Regions from separate parts of the Homo sapiens genome. Here all the other regions are linked to region 4. The links come from fine-mapping of genetic effects on gene expression. A gene starts in region 4. Each other region holds a variant in brackets. All regions are shown on one strand. Distances are between the middles of the regions. Region 1 has its middle 32 kb from the start of PNRC1-DT. Region 2 has its middle 7.9 kb from the start of SRSF12. Region 3 holds the start of SRSF12 (serine and arginine rich splicing factor 12). Region 4 holds the start of PNRC1 (proline rich nuclear receptor coactivator 1).

Region 1 (5,605 bases), 32 kb before region 4:
GGTGTGATGGCTCATGCCTGTAATCCCAGCTACTCGGGAGGCTGAGGCAGGAGAATCACTTGACCCAGGAGGCAGAGGTTGCAGTGAGCTAAGATCACACCATTGCACTCCAGCCTGAGTGACAGAGCAAGACTCTATCTCAAAAAAAAAAAAAAAAGGTGGGGGAAGTGTATTGGCCTCTAATCCCAGCTCCAGCAATTACGGCTTCTTCCTAGGCTTTTGTGTCCCTGTGTGAGAAACATGGACCAGAAGTGCCATCAAGTTCTCGCTGTCCCTGTTCTTCAAATGAGGACGTGAAGCCATGGAGATGGAAAAGTATGATGGTGGGTTCCTCTGAGGCTGTGTCAGAGGAGACAAGAGTGGATACTGAGGATGATTCATTAATCTTTCTTGGCAAAGAAAATTTTATGTGATGACTAGAAATTTGTTTACTCATACACAAATTCCTACCGAAACAGTCGAGAGGAGAGAAATAGCACATTGGTACAAATGTTTTTTCTTTCTGTAAGTCAAATAATCAACATTTCAGACATTTCTTAGAAAGTCTAGTAAATAGATTTATTTTCTTTTTTTTCTTTTTTTTTTTTTTTGACAGAATCTCACTCTGTCACCCAGGCTGGAGTGCACAGTGGTGCGATCTCAGCTCACTGCAACCTCTGTCTCCCAGGTTCAAGCGATTCTCCTGCCTCAGCCTCCTGAGTAGCTGGGATTACAGGCGCCTGCCACCACGCCCGGCTAATTTTTGTATTTTTGGTAGAGACAGGGTTTTGCCACATTGGCCAGGCTGGTTTCGAACTCCTGACCTCAAGTGATCAGCCCACCTTGGCGTCCCAAAGTGCTGGGATTACAGGCATGAGCCACCATGCCCGGCCAGATTTCTTGAAAGTTGTTTTAAAAGTGGTTATATTTCTTAGGCCTAGGATTAAGGGGTAGTTTTTATTGTTTAGTCTTTTTATGTCTGCTCTGCATCTTTCACCAATAATTAATAGAGAATCAATAAGTATTAGTTCTTTAATCAGGTTTTTTTAAACGAAATAAATGGCTTTAATTGTTCAAAAAGAAGGCAACAGAGGGAAAGAAACTTAAAAACTAATAATGGTGAAAACCGGCATTAGGCTGGGCACGGCAGCTCATGCCTGTAGTCTCAGCTATTCGAGAGGCTGAGGTGGGAGGATCACTAAAGCCCAGGAGGTCGAGGCTGTAGTCAGCCGTGATCATGCCACTGCACTCCAACCTGGGCTACAGAGCAAGACCCTGTCTCAAAAAAAAAAAAAAAAAAAGAGAAAGAAAAAAATTATTTTAATTTTTTCATAAATTTTTTAAAAATAGAAACAGGGTCTCAGTATGTTGCCCAGGCTGGTCTTGAATTCCTGGTCTCAAGCGATCCACCCACCTTGGCCTCCCAAAGTGCTGGCATTACAGCCACCATGCTTGGCCTGAAAAAAAATTAATAAATAAAAAATAAACTGACATTTACTAAGTTACATTTATTTCCTACTGAGTAGTACTGACTCATTGATTCCCCTCTCAACTCTGGAAAAGAAGCTGTTTATTATCCCCATTTTATATATAAGAAAAAGCAGAGAAAAGTTCAATGCTTCTGCCGAGGTCACAGAGCTAATAAATGCAGTCACTGGGGCTTCAACTAGACGGTGAAGTTCGGGGCCCCTGCTATTTATTATTGTGCTCTATTTTCTCCTAGATGATCTAAAAGTTAAGCATACTTGGTTTGGAAAACATGTAATCTTAGAGAACAGATTTATCATGCAAACTACATTTAAGTTAGTACTACCCGAACTTACATTAATAGAAGGCTGAAGGAGAGTAGTTTGAAACTGTTGTAGGTTTGGGATTTAAATTTTGCTAAGGATAAACCAGAGTAGATAAATCAACTCTGTGCTAGGGTTAATCGTATAGCCAACATTGGTTTATGTCAACAATTAGATTGCTTTGTATGGTACCTCAAAAAAAGTTGAAAGGTGATTAGAATTGCTCAGGAAAAGGCTGGAAAGATTACAAACTGCCAATCAGCTTCAAAAAATGAATTTAAAAATAAAAGCACAATCTATCCATGGAACAGGATTCCATCAGCACAGAAAACGATCAGGGAAAAACGGAGTATGTGCACACACTCTCCCCCACCCCCAAGAAAAGCTTCACTGACACCATCTCATTTTGTGTAAACAACACAGTTCCTGTCCTACCCTCA[T/C]TGAGGAACCTCAGCTACTTTAGGGCTTTTAAATGTTGGTCTTTGTCCTCTCATCCTCTACTTCCTCACTTTTCAATCAGTTCTCCTCCTATGGCTGGATCCATTTAGCTGCTTATCACATTTCAGGAAACTGAAATAATCATAAAAGTGATTTCATGACCCAGAACTGAGGACAGACCTCACCCCTCACGCTCAATAAATATTTGCTGGATGGATGAATAATTGCTACAGCCGTGGTTCTTCTAGACAAGGAATTTCACCTTATATCCCAGGGTAGGAAAAGACACAAGACTGCAAGATGCAAGAAAGATTGCCTCCACTAAATAAAACAGGTTCTGGGCTGGGCCAGGTGGCTCACGCCTGTAATCGTTAATACTTTGGGAGGTTGAGGTGGGCAGATCGCTGGAGCTCAGGAGTTCAAGACCAGCCTGGGCAACAAGGCGAGACCCCATCTCCACAAAAAATAAAAAAATTAGCTGGGTGTGGTGGCATGTACCTGTAGTCCCAGCTACCTAAGAGGCTGAAGTGAGAGGATCGCTTGAGCCTGGGAGTTCGAGGCTGCAGTGAGTTGTGATCCCACCACTGCACTCCAGCCTAAGTGATAGAGCGAGACTGTCTCAAAAAAACCAAACAGGTTCTGATGGGGAGTGGGAGTGGGGAAGCTTGGGGTTTGGCAAGAACTGGCTATACTTTGCAACAAGTCAAATCTGGGTTCAAAACCTGGCTCTGCTCCTAGAGTATGACTTCACTTTATTTTCTCTACCTTGAGTCTCAATTTCTCCATTTAAAACGCCTTTTAGGGATGCTGTGAGTTTGGGTATGATGGGAGAGGCATTCATCCAGTTTCCTCCTTGATCCTTATCTTCATTCCCACTCCAAGAAGGAGCCCCTAATCTGATGAGTCATTCCAGGGACACTGATTGGGCCACATGAGAGGGGTTGTCTTTCTTCATCTTCTCGGAAGGCCAGAATTTTCTGGCACCCTCAGAAAAAGACCCGCCCTTTATTTCCCTCTCTAGCCCTGTCTTCTTTCTTGAATGCAGGCTGCATGTGATCAGTGACCAGTTCTTCACTCTTCTGCTTTTCCCTTCCAGGTAGCCTAAGTGGCAAAGAGGATGGGAACTGTTTCCTTCAGGAGAAAAAGACCTGCATCCTGTTTTCATTGCCTCCTGGGGTCTTCTTTTCAGTCTCCTTTCTCCCATGTGGTCATCTGGGTGGTAACACTTGGGTTTAGATTGAATGGGAAGGAAGAGTCTAATAGAGCCATTTTTGCCTGAGTTCCCTGCCTCAAGGCTTCAGATACAGTCCAGCAGCAGTAAAACGTTAATGCAGCCAGATTGAAATTTTATCACACTACATCTCAGACATGCAAATAAAATGTTTGAAATGGAACTTAAAATTACCAATAAAAGTATCTCATTCTTCGGACTTAAGTTCTCATTCCAGCCAATAACTCCCCATTAGAGCTGTTTCTCTCCCTTTGTCTTTTCATCCTTTAAGATGGTGTTTGAAGGGTGGTGCTTAAGTGACTTCATGGTGGCTCATAGCCCATGCTTTTCTCCTCTGGATGGTTGCCAACCTGTGCTGCAAAGATGCTGCTGTGCTCTTGTCCCTGAGCTGCCAATCCTAAGATCTGCTCTCCTTGCTCTCTTCCTTACCCCACCTCCATGGCTGGAACTTGTCTTACATCATATCTGCCTCCTTACCAAGATGAAATTTGTAAACACCACTTCCCAGGAGGGCTACTAGCAGAATGGCTATTGGGGAATAATTTATGGAAGAAAGAAAGAAAATACAGGCATATACACACAAACTCACGCATACATACAGTTCTTGTCACATTACTTTGATTTCTTTTTCTTTTTTTCCTAAATTTTTTGTAGACAGGGTCTCACTCTGTTGCCCAGGATAGTGTTATACTCCTGGCCCCAAGCAATCCTCCCATCTCAGCCTCCCAAAGTGCTGAGAATACAGGCATGAGCCACCAAACCGGACCCCATTATACTCTTTTATCGTCTCTCAGTATACCCCAGTAGGATGTTCAGGGATTTTCTGTTTTGTAAGCCCAGTGTTTGGAAGAGTGTATGGCACAGAGTACGTGCTCAATAAATATTTGTTGAATGCATGAATGGTGGGTCATATCTGCTGTGTATGGATTTATCCAGTTCAATTCTCAGGGGCAATCTTATTTCCCTTATCCCCAGGTGCTTGCAGAACAGCACGCAGAAGCTTATGTACTGCCCACAACAATCACCAACTTGGACGTGGTAGTTGAAGCAATGAGTCTTATGAGGTCCCTCAAGATGAGCGGGAAGAACAAAGTGGGGCCAAGAGTAGCTTAGAGTAGCAGTTCTCAAACTTTCAATCTCAGAACCCCCTTACAACTTTTAGAAATTGTTGGGGACTCCAAGGCATTTTCTTTACATGGGTTATGTCAATATTTATTGTATTAAAATTAAAACAAAAATTTTAATTTTTTGCAAATCTCTTGACAGAAGGGAGCTGGATTCTCATACCTACATCTGCATTCAATCTATTGAGATGTGTTTTGGTTGAAATCTGACCTTATACAGATAGGTGATTGGAAAAGGGAGGACCTCAGAGATCCCAGGGTTTCTCTGACCACGTTCTGAAACTGCTGTCCTAGAGCAATAGTTGCTGCAACAATGACAACAATCTTCTCTGCAACACAGCCCTCAGCCCTCCGGGAACCCCAGATTCTAATATTGGCACAGAATCCCAGCCTCCAGCCTCTTTGCTTAGAATTGCACAATTTTCCAGTAATGTATGAAACAGCTGGCAGCCTTGCGCAGGAAAACTGGATAGAGGTGAGTCCCTGAGGGAGTATGTTTGTCCTGGGTAAAAGCAAGTGGACTAGACATCCTAGAAAAGGATTGACACTTGAAATCCTAGCATTTTGGGAGACCAAGAAGGGAGGATTGCTTGAGCCCAGGAGTTTGAGACCAGCCTGGGCAACATAGCAACACCCTGTTTCTAAAAACAAACAAACCAAAACCCCAAGAAAGTGGGGTGTTGAGGAAAAGAAAACACATCATGCATTCTCAGGAAGGAGAGACAACAGCTTAAGAAGCTCAGGTACATTAATGAACAAACATGTCTCAGTGCCCAGGCTGAAGAAGAAACAATGAAGCTCAGCCTGCTGGGTGTGTGTGGAAGGAGCTGGCTCTCAGAAGGGGAAAAGTTGGTGACATAATTATATATCTACCTCTGTAACTTCCTGAGTCTAGCTGGCAGAGCCACAGCTTTGCCCACATTCGTTGGGGAACTGGTGGAAATATAGCAGACTCTTACCAGGTACAGCTGTAAGATGAGTAAATCCTCAGTATGTTGGAGTGGCCTTGTAACCATGGGTAGAAAGGCCTTAGGTAACACCTT
Region 2 (5,605 bases), 46 kb after region 4:
GGGTGTTTCTTTCTAATTAATTTGCCATTTGCTTAGTGTTGATCTATTGTATGTGAAGCACAGTGCTAGGAACTGGGGATGAAAATAGAAGTTATGCTCCTTAATTCTCAAGGACCTAGTCCATTGTTTCCCAAACTTAAGTCGTTTTCATCCATCCTGTGAGATTTTTGCCATAATGATGTACTTCTTTACCATAATATGTTTACTTTAAATTAGCTCACTTTTATTTAAAAAGAAAGCTCTATCACCAATATTAATTTTTAAAGTTTTATGGACAGAAGGAGAGCCAGGCACAGTTGCTCATGCCTGTAATCTCAGTGCTTTGGGAGGCTGAGACAGGAGGATTGCATAAGGGCAGGAGTTTGAGACTAGTCTGGGCAACATACGATACCTCATCTCTAATAAAAATAAAAACAAATTAGCTGGGCATGGTGGTGTGTGCCTGTAGTCCCAGCTACTCAGGAGGCTGGAGCACAAGAATCTCATGAACCCAAGAGGTGGAGGTTGCAGTGAGCTGAGATCGTGCCACTGCACTCCAGCCTAGGCAACAGAGTGAGACTGTCTCAAAAAAAAAAAAAAAAAAAGGTTTATAGACAGAAGGAGAGCCAGGCACAATGGCTCATGCCTGTAATCCCCGTGCTTTGGGAGGCTGAGGCAGGATGATTGAGGCCAGGAGTTCAAGACTAGTCTGGGCAACATATGATAACTCATCTCTAGTAAAAATAAAAACAAATTAGTTGGGCATGGTGGAGTGTGCCTGTAGTCCCAGCTACTCTGGAGGCTGAGGTGGGAGGATCACTTGAGTCCAGGAGGTTGAGACTGAAGTGAGCTGTGTTCGTGCCACTGCACTCTAGCCTGGGCAATAAAGCAAGATCATGTCTCAAAATAATAATAATAAACAAAACCATGTTGGAAATTCCAGCCGATTACTTTTGTCTGCGCAGGCTCCAAGCCTGCTCTCTCTTATAAAAGGGAAATTAATCACTCAATATAGAGATGTTGAAGACATACTGGCACAAAACTAAAACTTTCTCCCTAATGTAAATATGGAAAGGGCCTAGTCTGGGCAACATACGAAACCTCATCTCTAATAAAAATAAAAACAAAGTAGCTGGGTATGGTGGTGTGTGCCTGTAGTTTTAACTCTCACACTATGCAATTCCACATTTAATGTCTCATCAGTGTAACATATAAAACTAAATAGTACCACCACTGGTGAGTATCTTTAATTTTTGAGAGACGTTCTTGCTAGAGATAGACACGTATGTAAATAAGTCATTATAATATTGTTTCATTAGTGCCACATAAAGGTATTTCGGAGTAGTATGGAGGATATAATGGAAACAGATTAGTTCTCTGGCGGGGAGTACTAGGAGTTATTTTAGAGGAAATCAATGTTTGTGCTATTTATTGGATTAAATTCACCCAGGAATAAAAAAAGCAAAGTGAACTCGATGAGCAAAGGGACATTTGTGGTGAGAGTAGTGTAGTGTTGCTGAACTAGGGGAGAAGGAAGGAAGAATGCTAAAGAGATTGGAATGGAGATTTAGAGCCAAAGTTGTTTTTGTTGTTGCTGTTGTTGTTTTTTTTTTTTTTTTCAATTCGGGGTCTTGCTTTGTTGCCCAGGCTGGAGTGCAGTGGTGCAGTCATGGCTCACTGCAGCCCCAACCTCCTGGACTCAAGCAATCCTCCCACTTCAGCTTCCCAAGTTGCTGGTGCTACAAGTGTGTACCACCATGCCCTGCTAATTTTTAAATTTTTTATAGAGGTAGGTCTTGCTATGTTTCCAGGCTGGTCTCACACTCCTGGCCTCAAGTGATCCTCCTGCCTCAGCCTTCCAAAATGCTGGGGTTACAGGTATGTAACCCCACTGTACCTGGCCCCATCAAGATTTTTTAAGCAGGAGATTAAGATCAGATTTGTGTTTAATAAGGATATTCTGACAAAAATGTGGAGGATGAATTGGAACAGTAGAGACTGGTACAAGCAGATCAGTTAAAAGGGTCTTGTGTGTGATATATTTTCTCTTTTAAAAAGTATTTCTCACCGGGCGCGGTAGCTCACGCCTGTAATCCCAGCACTTTGGCAGGCCGAGGTGGGCGGATCACGAGGTCAGGAGATCGAGACCATCCTGGCTAACACGGTGAAACTCCGTCTCTACTAAAAATACAAAAAATTAGCTGGGTGTGGTGGCAGGCGCCTGTAGTCCCAGCTACTCAGGAGACTGAGGCAGGAGAATGGCGTGAACCTGGGAGGC[G/A]GAGGTTGCAGTGAGCCGAGACCGCGCCACTGCACTCCAGCCTGGGTGACAGAGCGAGACTCCGTCTCAAAAAAAAAACCATTTCTCAGCTGGGTGCAGTGGCTCATGCCTGTAACCTCAGAACTTTGGGAGGCCAAGGCAGGTGGATTACCAGAGGTCAAGAGTTCAAGACCAGCCTGACCAAAATGGTGAAACCCCGTCTCTACTAAAAATACAAAAAAATTAGCCGGGCGTGGTGGCGGGTGCCTGTAATCCCAGCTACTCGGGAGGCTGAGGCAGGAGAGTCTCTTGAGCCCAGTAGGCGGACGTTGCAGTGAGCCAAGGTCGCACCATTGCACTCTAGCCTGGGCAACAACAGCAAAACTCTGTCTCAAAAAAAAAAAAAAATTCTCAGCCAGGCACAGTGGCTCATGCCTGTATTCCCAGCACTGTGGGAGGCCCAGACAGGCGGATCACTTGAGGTCAGGAGTCCGAGACCAGCCTGGCCAACATGGCAAAACCCCATCTCTAGTAAAAATACAAAAATTAGTTGGGCATTGGGGTGGGTGCCTGTAGCCCCAGCTACTTGAGAGGCTGAGACAGGAAAATCACTTGAACCTGGGAGGTGGAGGTTGCAGTTAGCTGAGATCATGCCACTACAATGCAGCCGGGGCGACAGAGTGAAACTCTGTCTCAAAAAAAAAAAAAGTAAAGTATTTCTTGGCTGGGCATGGTGTCTCATGCCTGTAGTATCAGCACTTTGGGAGGCCAAGGCAGGAGGATGGCTTGAGCCCAGAAGTTGGAGACCAACCTGGGCAACAAAGTGAGACCCCGTCTCTACAAAAAATTAAAAAGTTAGCCAGGTGTGGTGACACGCATCTGTAGTCCCAGCTACTGGGGAGGCTGAGGTGGGAGGATCACTTGAGCCTGTGAAGTTAAGACTGCAGTGAGCCATGATTGCACCACGGCATTCCAGGCTGAGGGACATAGAAAGACCTGTCTTAAAAAAAAAAGGCCTGGCATGGTGGCTCACGCCTGTAATCCTAGCACTTTGGGAGACCGAGGCGGGTGGATCACAAGGTCAAGAGTTCAAGACCAGCCTGGCCAAGATGGTGAAACCCCATCTCTACTAAAAATACAAAAATTAGCTGGGCATGGTGGCAGGCGCCTATAATCCCAGCTACTCGGGTGGCAGAGAATTGCTTGAACTTGGAGGTTGCAGTGAGCTGAGATTGCGCCACTGCACTCCAGCCTGGGTGACAGAACGAGACTCCATCTAAAAAAAAAAAAAAAAAAAAGGAGTTATTAGCATTGTCCACTGAAAAGGCTTAGAAACAATGACCAGCCCAGTACCATTTGGCACCCCTTATGGCCCAGACCATACTCCCTAAATATAATTTTGTCTTAAAATAAACAATGACTTTTTGGAAGTGTGGCTGATTCCATGCTTGAGGGAAAAATGTACACAATGAACCTAAAATATCTTGTCATATCAGAAAAAAGTTATCAAAAGCTTCTGGGGTCATGTGAAAAGGATTCCAAAGACAATCCTGGCTAGAGATAAGACAATTTGAGTAGCAATAAGAACAATAACTGCAATGAATTAAAACATATCAAATATTTTTAAGTGCACAAGTTCATAATTATACTAAAAAACAACCCTAATTGGTCACCTTTGGATCCTAACTTTCCTGTATAAATTTATTCCTCAGGGTAACCCAAATGGTTGATGAAGGAAGTTTTGTTTTGTTTTGTTTTTCTAAAAGTATTCCAGTCAATAAAATAAAGAGGAGATGATAGAATTATAATGTCATAATTTTGCAACCCCTAATGAAGTAGTGGGTCCAGGCAATGGCCATAAATGACTGCTAAATTAATACAAAGAGAAACATCCATTATATGCTCTTCTGAAGGAAGTTCACATCAGTACCTGTGAAATGCTTTTTTTTTTTTTTTTGAGACGGAGTGTCACTCTCTTGCCCAGGCTGGAGTGCAGTGGTGTGATTTTGGCTCACTGCAACCTCTGCCTCCCGGGTTCAAGCAGTTCTCCTGCCTCAGCCTCCCGAATAGCTTGGATTACAGGCATGTGCCGCCAAGCCTGGCTAATTTTGATTTTTGGTAGAGATGGAGTTTCACCATGTTGCCCAGGCTAGTCTCAAACTCATGACCTCAGGTGATTCACCCATCTCAGCCTCCCAAAGTGCTGGGATTACAGGCCAGAGCCACTGCACCTAGCTGAAATGCTCTTCCAAAAACACTGAGTCTAGCCTAGCTCAGCATTGGTTAATAGAACTTTCTGTAATAATGGAAGTGTTCTATATCTGCACTGTCCAATACTGTGGCCACTAAACACATGGGACTATTTAAATTTAAAATAAAATTTTAAATTCATTTAGTCCTGTTGTGGGAAGTCAGGGACCCCCAAATGGAGGGACCGGCTGGAGCCGCAGCAGAGGAACATAAATTGTGAAGATTTCATGGACATTTATCAATTCCCAAATAATACTTTTATAATTTTTATGCCTGTCTTTAATCTCTTAATCCTGTTACCTTCGTAAGCTAAGGATGTACATCACGTCAGGACCAGTGTGATAATTGTGTTAACTGTACAAATTGATTGTAAAACGTGTGTTTGAACAATATGAAATCAGTGCACCTTGAAAAAGAACAGAATAACAGCAATTTTTAGGGAACAAGAGAAGATAACCATAAGGTCTGACTGCCTGCTGGGTCAGGCAAAAAGAGCCATATTTTTCTTCTTGCAGAGAGCCTATAAATGGACATGCAAGTAGGAGAGATATTGCTAAATTCTTTTCCTAGCAAAGAATATTAATATTAATACCCTTGGAAAGGAATGCATTCCTGGAGGGAGGTCTATAAACGGCTGCTCTGGGAGTCTCTGTCTTATGCAGTTGAGATAAGGACTGAGATACGCCCTGGTCTCCTGCAGTACCCTCAGGCTTATTAGGGTGGGGAGAAAACTCCACCCTGGTAAATTTGTGGTCAGATCAGTTCTCTGCTCTCAAACCCTGTTTTCTGTTGTTTAAGATGTTTATCAAGACAATATGTGCACTGCTGAACATAGACCCTTATCAGTAGTTCTGCTTTTGCCCTTTGCCTTGTCATCTTTGTTGGACCCTTATCAGTAGTTCTGCTTTTGCCCTTTGTCCTGTTCCCTCAGAAGCATGTGATCTTTGTTCTGCTTTTTGCCCTTTGAAGCATGTGATCTTTGTCCCTACTCTCTGTTCTTACACCCCCTCCCCTTTTGAAACCCTTAATTAAAAAACTTGCTGGTTTGAGGCTCAGGTGGGCATCATGGTCCCACCAATATGTGATGCCACCCCCGGTGGCCCAGCTGTAAAATTCCTC
Region 3 (5,605 bases), 36 kb after region 4:
CCTCTGCCTCCCAGGTTCATGCGATTCTTCTGCCTCAGCCTCCCTAGTAGCTGGGACTACAGGCGAGTGCCACCACGCCCAGCTAATTTTTATATTTTTAGTAGACACAGGGTTTCACCATATTGGCCAGGCTGGTCTCGAACTCCTGACCTCGTGATCCGCCCACTTTGGCCTCCCAAAGTGCTGGGATTATAGGCGTGAGCCACCGCACCCAGCCCAATTTTTTCTATTATTAGTAGAGATGGAGCTTCACTATGTTAGCCAGGCTCATCTCGAACTCCTGACCTCAAGTGATCCACGTGCCTCGGCCTCCCAAAGTGCTGGGATTATAGATGTGAGCCACCGTGCCAGGCCCCAAAGATTTTGTTTATAAGCATACTAAATGTTAAAGCCTATTTATTTATTTATTTTTGAGACAGAGTCTCACTCTCACCCCCGGAGTGCAGTGGTGCCATCTTGACTCACTGCAGCCTCGACCACCTGGGCTCAGGCGATCCTCCCACGTCAGCCTCTCAAATAGCTGAACTACAGGTGCGCACTACCACACCTGGCTAATTTTTGTATTTTTTGGTGAGACAGGGTTTTGCTATGTTTCCCTGGCTGGTTTCAAACTCCTGAGCTTAAGTGATCTACCCACCTCAGCCTCCAAATGTGCTGGGATTACAGGCATGAGCCACTGTGCCCTATCTTTAAAGCTAATTTTAAAAGTGTCTACATGTCACATTGCTAGTTAACTTATACTGTATACTACTTTGTACTAAAAGGTTAATACAGATTACATGTGATGATTCTAATTTCATATCATCACTCACCTGCTATTCGATCTTAGGCAAAATACTTAACCTAAACGTTGATTTCTCATCGGTAAAATGGGGTTAACAAAGAACATACGGCCAGGCGCAGTGGCTCATGCCTGTAATCCCAGTGCTTTGGGAGGCCAAGGTGGGCGGATTACCTGACATCAAGAGTTCGAGACCAGCCTGGCCAACATGATGAAACCCCGTCTCTACTAAAAATACAAAAATTAGCCAGGCATGGTGGCACACATCTGTAATCCCAGCTACTCGGGAGGCTGAGGCAGGAGAACTGCTTGAGCCCAGGAGGCGGAGGTTGCAGTGAGCCGAGATCGTGCCACTGCACTCCAGCCTGGCTGACACAGCAAGACTCTGTCTCAAAATAAAACAAACAAACAAAAAAACCACCATACATTATAGGGTTACTGCGAAAATTTAATATATGTAATGTTTTTAGTATGGCACCTAGTACACAGTGAGTATTCAACAAATGTTAGAGATTTCATTCATGTAATATAATCTTGTAGATTTTGATTGTCTGCCAGTGGCAAAGCTAAAAAAAAAAAAAAGTGAAAAAATGGAAAAGGAAATCAGTCAATCTCAACTATCAGTCTCAATCACTCACTGGTGAATGAAGTACATAGATCAGAGATCAGGTGTCACCTGCAGATGTGTTTTATTTGGCCTGCATGACGTTTAAACATTTTTAAAATGCGTATAAATATGAAATTGCCAATATTTTACTGCTTTTATTTTTTTAGTTTTTGAGACAGAGTCTCGCCCTGTCGCCCAGGCTGGAGTGCAATGGTACTATCTCGGCTCACTGCAACCTCCACCTCCCGGGTTCAAGCGATTCTCCTGTCTCCGCCTCCCGAGTAGCTGGGATCACAGGCACGCACCACCATGCCTGGTGAATTTTTTGTATCTTTAGTAGAGACGGTGTTTTACCATGTTGGCCAGGCTGGTCTCAAACTCCTAATTTCGTGATCTGCCCACCTCGGCCTCCCAAAGTGCTGGGATTATAGGCGTGAGCCACCACGCCCGGCCACAGCTTTTATTTTTTTAGACTCTCTAAAGGTCTCTCTGTCACCCAGGCTGGAGTACAGTGATGTGATCATCGTTCACTGTAACCTTGACCTCCCGGGCTCAAGTGACCTCCCGGGCTCCCACCTCAGCTTTCCCAGTAATTGGGACTACAGGTGTCATACACCAGGCTACATTTTATAGCTTTCTTTTATTTATTTATTTTTTGAGACAGAGTCTCACTCTGTCGCCCAGGCTGGAGTGCAGTGGCCTGATCTCGGCTCACTGCCAACCTCCACCTCTGGGGTTCAAGCGATTCTCGTGCCTCAGTCTCCTGAGTAGCTGGGATTACAGGCGCCAGCCACCACACCTGGCTAATTTTTGTGTTTTAGTACAGACGGGGTTTCACCAGGTAGGCCAGGTTGGTCTCGAACCCCTCACCTCAAGTGATCCGCCGAACTCGGTCTCCTAAAGTGCTGGGATTACAGGCGTGAGCCACCGCGCCCAGCCTTATATTTTACAGCTTTCAAATCTACAAATGGGGTTTTCTTTTTTCTTTCTTTTTTTTTTTTTTT[T/C]TTTTTTGAGACGGAGTCCTCGCTCTGTCTCCCAGGCTGGAGTGCAGTGGCGCGATGTTGGCTCACTGCAAGCTCCGCCTCCCGGGTTCACACCATTATCCTGCCTCAGCCTCCTGAGCAGCTGGGACTACAGGCACCCGCCACCACGCCCGTCTAATTTTTTTATTTTTAGTAGAGACGGGGTTTCATCGTGCTAGCCAGGATGGTTTCCATCTCCTGACCTCGTGATCCGCCTGCCTCAGCCTCCCAAAGTGCTGTGATTACAGGCATGAGCCACCGCACCCGGCCACGAATGGGATTTTCATATGATTCAACTTAATGCATCTAAAGACTAAGATTACACATACAAAATCCAGATTTCTGATTTCTCTTTACAACTAGTAAGATATATCAACAATAAGTCCAGATGTCTACATGGCAGCTGTCAGCTGGAGCCTAGAGGCAGATGCTGCACCTTTTAGATGGCATATTTCCTTTTCTATTTGCTATTCTATTTCTATTTGATAGTCCACACCATCCTACTGTGCCTTATAGGCTGGCAGCTTCACTCGTTTATATTACCCCGGCTGGCCCCTGTGAACCATTAGAATTGGAAACCTCTGATTTTTCTACAGACACCCTGAAGAGGCTTGATGCTTATTCCATTTTCAAGTTGTCTGTTCAACTGCAAGGTTTTTTAATTCTGCCCAAATCATAAATTATGTTCGTGTTTTCTATGTAATATATTGATAAAAAGGCTGACAGAAGAAATGTAAACAAGGCACCTTTTAGATGTTAACTAAGATATATTAACCACAACATATAGTTGTGATACATGTACTTGCGGTGATCAAATAAAAAATACTTGGCCGGGCACGGTGGCTCATGCCTGTAATCTCAGCGCTTTGGGAGGCCGAGCTGGGCGGATCACTTGAGGTCAGGAGTTGGAGATCAGCCTGGCCAACATAATGAAACCTCATCTCTACTAAAAATATAAAAATTAGCCGGGTGTGGTGGCACACGCCTGTAATCCCATCTACTTTGGATGCTGAGGCAGGAGAATCGCTTGAACCCGGGAGGCAGAGGTTGCAGCCAACCAAGATCGGGCCATTGTACTCCAGCCTGGGGGACAAGAGCGAGACTTTGTCTAAAAAAAAAAAAAAAACTAAAAAATAAAAAATACTTAACGTTTATTTACTCCTCAAAGGTAAATTATAATACTCATCTCAGATGACTATGGAGTCAAGAGCTCCATGTATCTATACCTCTCTGGCCCCAGGTAAATCATTAAAACTCTTAGTTTCCGCTCTCCCTTATGTACAATAAAACAGTACTGCATAGGTAGAAAGGCTGGGGGGAAGTAAATGAAGCCCAGTGAAATGAGAATGTCTATTAACACCGTTCCCTCTCCCCCCGCCCCCAATTTCTTCAGCTCCATTAAGGAAGGAAGTGCTATATGAAAAAGTCATTCCTTAGTATCTGTGTTCAGACACTCTGTAGACAAAATTCTCAACGGAGGGGTGGGGCATCAGAATCAACCAGGTGAGCCTATACTCACGCCCTTAAAAAGGGTGTTAATACTGGACTCAGAACTTTAAAGAAAAACGCACTGATCTCATTCATTGAAGTTATTTTTTGTATGCAGAATAAAATTGTGTGAATAAAATGCAAGCAGCACCGTCTGTAAGTAGACCAGAACTGGGGGAAAGAAACTGTAAGGCCCGAGTACGCATTATGGTACAAAACGTTCTCACCAGCCCCAATTCCTCTCCATCTAGGAGGGTTGGATGCGCGCGATTTTATCGGGGCACGGCGACAAAGGAGCTGAAACGCGGGCACTCGCTGGAGCGCAAACCCTCCCGACTCCCGGCGGGGAGCGACCTGAGCTCGGGAGAGGGGCGCCCCGTGTCCCACGGCCCGCCGGCTGCGGTGCTGAACCGCGGAAAGCGACGCGGGCCCGGGACACGATGTGCGCGGCGCCGGGGCTGAAAGCTGGCCGGGAGGGCGGAGGCGCGAGTTCCGCCCTGGGCCGCGGAGTAGTCCGAGGGCTCACACCTCCCCAAGTGGCGCAGCCTGGGCCCGCGGGGAGGCTCCGCGCAGCTCCCCCGAGCCTCCGCCGGGCCTCGGCCGTGCTCCGCGGCGCGGCTGTTACCCCGCCCCTCCTCCGCGCCCCCAACCTGCAGCCGCGGCCGTTCACCTGGTGGCGTCCGCGACGTTCCTGATGAACAGGGAGGTGTTGGGGGGCCTCGTGTAGCGAGACATGACCGCTTCCTCCGTTCCCTCCGGGTCTGCCCGCGGCCGCTGGACTCGCTCCGTCTCCCGCTACCGCTGCTACCACCACAGGAGCTCCGCCGGCCCCCGGCGCGACCCCCACCCCTCGGCCTCAGCCCCGCCAGCGCGCAGCCGCAGAGGCCGGCGCAGAGGGGGCGCAGCGCGGCGCCAGCCTGGACGCACGGGCCGGGGGCGGGGGCGGCGCCGGCGCGGCCCAGGGGCCGCGGGAATTCCGAAGACAGGAGCGCGGCCGTTCCCAGGCCCTATGGGATCCGGGTATGGGGGGTCCTGGAGTGCGACGGGATTTGGGGAGGGGGCGGCGAGGGCCAGTGTATGTCAGGAGGGCGGAGGCCAAGAGGGGGCTTGAGGCCGCGGCGGGGACGCCGGGGGTTAGAGGACCCAGAGGTGGTGGCGGGGCTGCGGCTGGGCGGAGGTGGGGTCAGTGAGAGCCGCTTTCAACCGCGCCCCCGCTCAGCCTCCGCGGCCCTCAGCGCATCGTCCTGAGCGCAGGACCTTGGCAGTTGGTAGGCCTCCTGCCCCTCTGGTCTTGAGCCTTCGGCTTTCCAACTGTGAGGTCTCGGTTTTGTTCGGATTTGTTTTTTTAATAGAGACGGGGTCTCGCTGTGTTGCCCAGGTGGTCTCAAACTCCTGGGCTCAAGCCTCTCCCGCCTCGGCCTTCCAAAGTGCTGGGATTACAGGTGTGAGCCACCGCGCCTGGCCTGTTGGATTTTTAAGTATTATATGATTCTTCATCCTTTATTCACTTGGGGCATAACACTCAGCTGTGAGTACATTCATTCAGATGTTTATTGAGCGTCTACTATGCGCCAGGCACTTAGCGTGGGATATAGCAATGAACAAACAGGCCAAGCCCCGCCCTCTGAGCTTACATTCTAGAGGGGGGACAAACGAATGTACAAATGAATACATGATGTAGAAGACAACAGTTTAAATGCAGGGACA
Region 4 (5,605 bases):
TACAGTACAGAACCCAGGGCAAACATGAAGCCTACACTTAAGGCCTCAAAATGATAAGTTATACACATAATTACTCCAACAATCACCCAAGAAATACACATAGACAATAATAGGTATCTTTGACCAAGGGCCCCACAGAGCTGGCTACCAATGACCAGCTCCCTGAAGGGTAAATTATTCTCTAGGACAGTATGATATTATCCCCAGATAAAGTCAAGCCTAAAATCATGGGATATAGTGAAAAGAACACTGGACTAGGCATCAGGAGTTCGAGTTATTCCTACCTCATTTTGTGAACCCCCCCCCCCAAGCAAGTTACTATATATTTAAATTTATTTACACCATACGTTAAATAGGACCTCTCTATATCAACCTTAAAGTGCTAGAGTAAGAATAAAATGAGATGACAGATGGAAAGTGCTTTGAAAAAGTAGATTCTTTTACAGCTCTGGATGTCCATGATTCCCATCCATCCAATGAACATGAGCACTTACTATGCATTACATGTTGCAGAAACAAAAATGAGTAAAATTCAGCAATTGGAATGAAATGGAGTTTTTTTGGTTTCTTTTTTGTTTTTTGAGATGGAGTATTGCTCTGTTGCCCAGGCTGGAGTGCAGTGGCATGATCTCGGCTCACTGCAACCTCTACCTCCCAGGTTTAAACGATCCTCCTGCCTCAGCCCCCCTAGTAGCTGGGATTACAGGCACATTAGCCTGTATGCCCAGCTAATTTTTATATTTTTAGTAGAGACAGGGTTTCGCCATGTTGGCCAGGCTGGTCTCAAACTCCTGACCTTAGGTAATCCAGCCGCCTCGGCCTCCCAAAGTGCTAGGATTACAGGTGTGAGCCACCACGCCTGGCCTGAAATGTAGTTTTAAAAGCTTATAAGGTTGACTGGGTTTGGTGGCTCACTCCTGTAATCCCATCACTTTGGGAGGCTGAGACAGGCAGATGGCTTGAGCTCAGGAGTTTGAGACCGGCCTGGGCAACATGGTGAAACCCTGTCTCCACTAAAAACACAAAAAATTAGCCAGGAGTGGTGGTGTGTGCCTGTGGTCCCAGCTACTCAGGGGCGTGGGGGGCTGGGGTTGGAGGATCTCTTGAGCCTGGGAGGCGGCTGTTGCTGTAATCCGAGATCATGCCATTGCACTCCAATCTGAGTGTCAGAAAGAAACCCCGTCTAAAAAAAAAAAAAAGTTTATAAAGTGATTGGGAAGCATTTTTCTGGATATGCAATCTGTCCAACTTTGCCATCAATCATAAAACGTTTCATTGCTTACTAATTGCTTACTACTCCAAAGCTGAAAACTATTGTAGAGGCGGTGAGGATACAGAAGTGTAAGATTACTGTGGTCTTCTAATAATGTAGAATCTAGTGTGGCAGGGCTGGACGCGGTGGCTCACGCCTGTAATCCCAGCACTTTGGAAGGCCGAGGCAGGCGGATCACGAGGTCAGGAGATCAAGACCATCCTGGCCAACAAGGTGAAACCCCGTCTCTACTAAAAAATACAGAAATTAGCTGGGCGTGGCGGGTGCCTGTAATCCCAGCTACTAGGGAGGCTGAGGCAGGAGAATCTCTTGAACCAGGGAGACGGAGGTTGCAGTAAGCCGAGATGGCGCCACTGCACTGCAGCCTGGCCACAGAGTGACACGCCGTCTCAAAAAAAAAAAAAAAAAAATTAAAACTTTTGTCTTGCAGTACCTGGACTGGAGATCAAATTCTGATGTTAACTTACCGTTTGATCTTTGACAAGTCCTTTAGCCTTTCTAAGCCTGTTTCCCCAGCTGTAAAATGGGAATAAAATACAGTACTGTCCCTCCAAAAAGAAGCTGAGGCAAAATCAGGCCAAGCTTGAGGACTGCAACCCAGGACCATAGATTCAAGCTGCCCTGAATATACACTCGGATTAGCAAGTTACAAGTAGGTTTTTAAAGGAAAAGAGGCAGCTCCTAAATTGTTTACCAATTTACATTAAAATATCGTGGGCTCTTGACTAGCTATACATTGTTCTTTGTATCTTAAATTTCAGAAACTTAAAGATAATGCGTAGGCAGCTAATCAGGAACAAAATGCCTTTAAACAATTGCCCCAGGCATTAGTAGTGAAAGGAAGAGAATGACAGCCTGCCTACTTCGCAGAGCTGAGGTCTGATCTATTTTTCTTAGTACCTATTCGTAAGGGTTGTTGTGAGGTTAAAGTGAGACAATCTATGTAAAGAACAGTTCCTGGAACATAAATGCTTGATAAATTATGGCCACAATTCTTTTTTGTGGTTGAGCAGTGCGGGGAGATCGCGAAAAATTTCTATTTACGCGCAGCTAACAAAATACTCTATGTTGCAGAGCTGTTTCACTTTCTCCCTTTGAGACGCAAGCCGGCTTGCCGCCTCCTCAAGTAACCAGGCACAATGTTCTGATCCCAAAGTCTCACAATCCTTCAAGTATGAAATCAGTAAAAACTCCAACTTCCATTTATGGATTTACGGAGAACTTTTTATACATCGAGGGGCTAATTCAATCAGTAAGTCACTTTGATTTTTACTCTGATCACCGAGACTAATAAGCAGCGATGCCGAACCAAGTAAATGAAAGAATCGTGAGCCATACTTCAGTAGATAAAATTTAAATGTAGACTGATTTTCTTCACGATTGCTAGGGAAGAAATCCTTACAGCGTACTTAGAAATCTTTGTTTTAAAATGATAACGCTGTTATGTTGGGCTGAAAATAAAACGGATACTTCCCCAAGGTCAGCAGCGGAGGAGGCAACCGTGGCCTTGCCAAAGTCATCCCCTCTTCCCAGCCCCCGTTCTTCCTGCCGCCCTCCCCCTGCCCCCTCCCTTCCCCACCCCCATCAACAAACTCCGCCGGGACATTTCAGTACCACCACTCCCTAGCCCGGCGAAGCGCAGGGGCGTGCTGGGGAGGAGTAAAGAGGGTGGGGCGGAAACCCAATTTCATTGTTCGCGGGACCGATTCTTCCCAAAAGAGCTCGCTGGCAGCGCCTGCGCAGTGCGCCCTCTTTGTGCCAGGCTGCAGCAAGCTGGTTGTTTGTGTGTGTCTACCCGAAGCTGCGGAGGCGGAGCGAGGGGGCGTGGCCTGCCTTGTCGCACTCTAATTGGGCTTTCGCAGGAAAGTGGGCGGGCGCGGGGCGGAGCTTCCGATAACAACACTCGGAGCTGGGGCTGTGGCTATTTGTTGCTGCGCCGCCACCGCCCGAGTCATGTTCCGCGATCTTCTCAGGCTCTCCTAGCAGCATCCATCGCCGCCACCCTATCTTCACTGGCTTCATTCACCTTCTCCTTCTCTCTTCGTTGCTGAGCGACAAGCTTCCTAGCGCTATGACTGTCGTCTCCGTCCCGCAGCGGGAGCCGCTCGTCCTGGGTGGCCGCCTTGCGCCGCTTGGCTTTTCCTCCCGAGGTTACTTTGGGGCCCTCCCGATGGTGACCACGGCTCCGCCTCCTTTACCCCGGATCCCGGACCCCCGGGCACTGCCCCCGACCCTCTTCCTCCCTCATTTCCTAGGGGGAGATGGCCCGTGTCTGACCCCCCAGCCTCGCGCTCCAGCAGCTCTGCCCAACCGCAGCCTCGCCGTGGCGGGAGGCACTCCTCGGGCAGCGCCGAAGAAGCGGCGAAAGAAGAAGGTGCGGGCCAGCCCCGCAGGGCAGCTGCCCAGCCGCTTCCACCAGTACCAGCAGCACCGGCCGAGTCTGGAGGGCGGCCGGAGCCCCGCGACCGGCCCGAGCGGAGCGCAGGAGGTCCCGGGCCCGGCCGCCGCCTTGGCCCCGAGTCCTGCAGCCGCAGCCGGCACGGAGGGAGCCAGCCCCGACCTTGCCCCGCTGCGGCCCGCGGCTCCCGGCCAAACCCCCCTCAGGAAAGAGGTGAGGCCGCCAGGGGGCCGTTGGGGAGTCGGGCCCTTAGACGGTCGCGGCCGAGCTCTGGGGCTGCAGACCCTGCACCCGGGGGGTCGGGCGGGTGGGGGCGGGGTGGGGGGGGCGGCTGTTTACTCGGGAGGGAAGTTTCCGTGACGCCCGCTCCATTCTTGCTTTGGGGGAAGAAGGGGGAAGGGGAGGCATGCGCTGGCGCTTCTGATTGGCTCCCAGGAGTCGGCCAATGAGAAGCGCCGCTGCGCCCCAGCAACAGCCCCGATTTAGAAGGCTGGCGGCGTTCCAGGGGGTTTCGGCGTTCCGGGCGCGCGGCGGGGTGGGGGCAGGGACAGGGCCCGCGGGAGGGCTGACGTCAGCGCGCGCTACGTGCCCGGCGCTCCGGCGCCCATGAAGGAGGCGAGGCCGGGTGGGGGCAGCTGGGGAAGGACTGGGCCCGGCTTTCGGCCTCCCGGCTATCGGGAGCCCCAGTCCTAGTCGGTGAAACGCGGAGACGGCCTCTAACGTCCCGCCGTAGGGGGTGGAGTGGGCTCCGAGCGGCTGGGTTTCGTTTGGTTGGAGTTGTGCCAAAATGTGAGGTGCCCGGTGTGGGACGCGCAGTCCAGTTGGGGCTCTGCCCGCCTCGGGCCTGACCTACTTAGTGGTTCCAAGTTAAGAGTTGGCAGGAGCCGCACAAAACTGATTTTATTACTTTTGCCACTGTGGTACTTCGTGTTAGTGTGTCCAGAGTAAGTTTTCAGAAGAGTTAGCAATTGAATTGACTTAGCCCGTCTGATTGCAGTGCTATTGCATTAGGATAAAATGGATAGAAGTTTAAATAGGATTAAGTCTACGAAATGATTTCAAAGTCTTGTCAGAATAACGTTTTATGGACTTAAGTTCAATGACTTAATCTTCGTAATAATGAAATGAAAAAGTTCCCGTTATTTAGTGAAGAATGTTGCATTGAATTAGAGATTTGCGGTTTATCTGTGCCCTTGGGAAAAAATTTGCCCACCTTGTTTCTTTAAATTATCGTCTCAATGTCTCCCTTTTAAAATTCCACGACTTTTGAAATATCCGTGATTACCTAAAAGCTTTTGTGCTTGTTTCCTGGCCTGTTTTCTAGAACAGGTACTAACTAGGGAGCTCTGGCAGTGAACCTTATTGACGTGGAAAGTTGTGGTCCTCTTTCGTGTCGTGTCTTGCTTACTACCGCGTTACAAGTGTTGGTAGTGCAGTGATCTAGTGGATTACCTTACGCTTTTCCATCCTTTCAAGACTTCCTATAAGGCCCACTTAAGTTGGGAAAGATTAAGGTGAGTGAAGCAGCGTTCTTGAAGCAGTTACTAAACCAGAAAGGAGGTACACAGCAAAGATTGTTTCTGGCACTCGTATTTGGAAGAGAGCTCATTAGTCTTCCTTACAGTTGTAGAAAGGTGGACTTGGGTTATTTCAGACTTTTTTTAGTTTGACATTTTAGAACTGGTTCACGTTGCATACTGGTAACTAGCAGTGGTGATTAACTGCATTTTTAGTGGCGAACAAGAGTGAACTTAAAAGTCAAGGGAAATTTAAGTTTTTTGTTGTTTTTTTTTTCTTGAGACAGAGTCTGCCTCTATCGCACTCCAGGCTGGAATGCAGTGGCACGATCGATCTCTGCTCACTGCATCCTCCCCTTCCCAGGCTGAAGGGATCCCGCCTCAGCCAGCCTCCCGAGGCGCGTGTTACCACGCCGG

The links. PIP is the estimated chance that this variant, and not a neighbour inherited with it, causes the effect.
Region 1: its variant is fine-mapped to the expression of PNRC1 in whole blood (TOPMed, PIP above 0.99).
Region 2: its variant is fine-mapped to the expression of PNRC1 in whole blood (INTERVAL, PIP 0.97).
Region 3: its variant is fine-mapped to the expression of PNRC1 in whole blood (INTERVAL, PIP 0.97).

Annotation. Positions count from the first base shown.
Region 1 is chr6:89,045,403-89,051,007 of GRCh38, forward strand. No RefSeq gene overlaps it. Among named protein-coding and RNA genes, the nearest start is that of PNRC1-DT, 32 kb to the right of the region's middle. The variant T/C (reference allele first, on the strand shown) is at 2,210.
Region 2 is chr6:89,123,155-89,128,759 of GRCh38, forward strand. It overlaps a transcript of PM20D2 not described here. Among named protein-coding and RNA genes, the nearest start is that of SRSF12, 7.9 kb to the left of the region's middle. RefSeq lists an enhancer at 5,236-5,530 and a silencer at 5,236-5,530. The variant G/A (reference allele first, on the strand shown) is at 2,258.
Region 3 is chr6:89,113,255-89,118,859 of GRCh38, forward strand. SRSF12 (serine and arginine rich splicing factor 12) reads right to left here and starts at 4,817. Exons shown (of 5, transcript NM_080743.5): 1 at 4,569-4,817. The coding sequence starts at 4,633. It also overlaps a transcript of PM20D2 not described here. RefSeq lists a silencer at 4,401-4,670. The variant T/C (reference allele first, on the strand shown) is at 2,393.
Region 4 is chr6:89,077,551-89,083,155 of GRCh38, forward strand. It overlaps PNRC1 (proline rich nuclear receptor coactivator 1), which reads left to right and starts at 3,201. Exons shown (of 2, transcript NM_006813.3): 1 at 3,201-3,884. The coding sequence starts at 3,345. PNRC1-DT (PNRC1 divergent transcript) reads right to left here and starts at 3,030. Exons shown (of 1, transcript NR_187250.1): 1 at 2,612-3,030. RefSeq lists enhancers at 2,306-2,395, 3,914-4,874 and silencers at 2,826-3,035, 3,086-3,235, 3,626-4,005.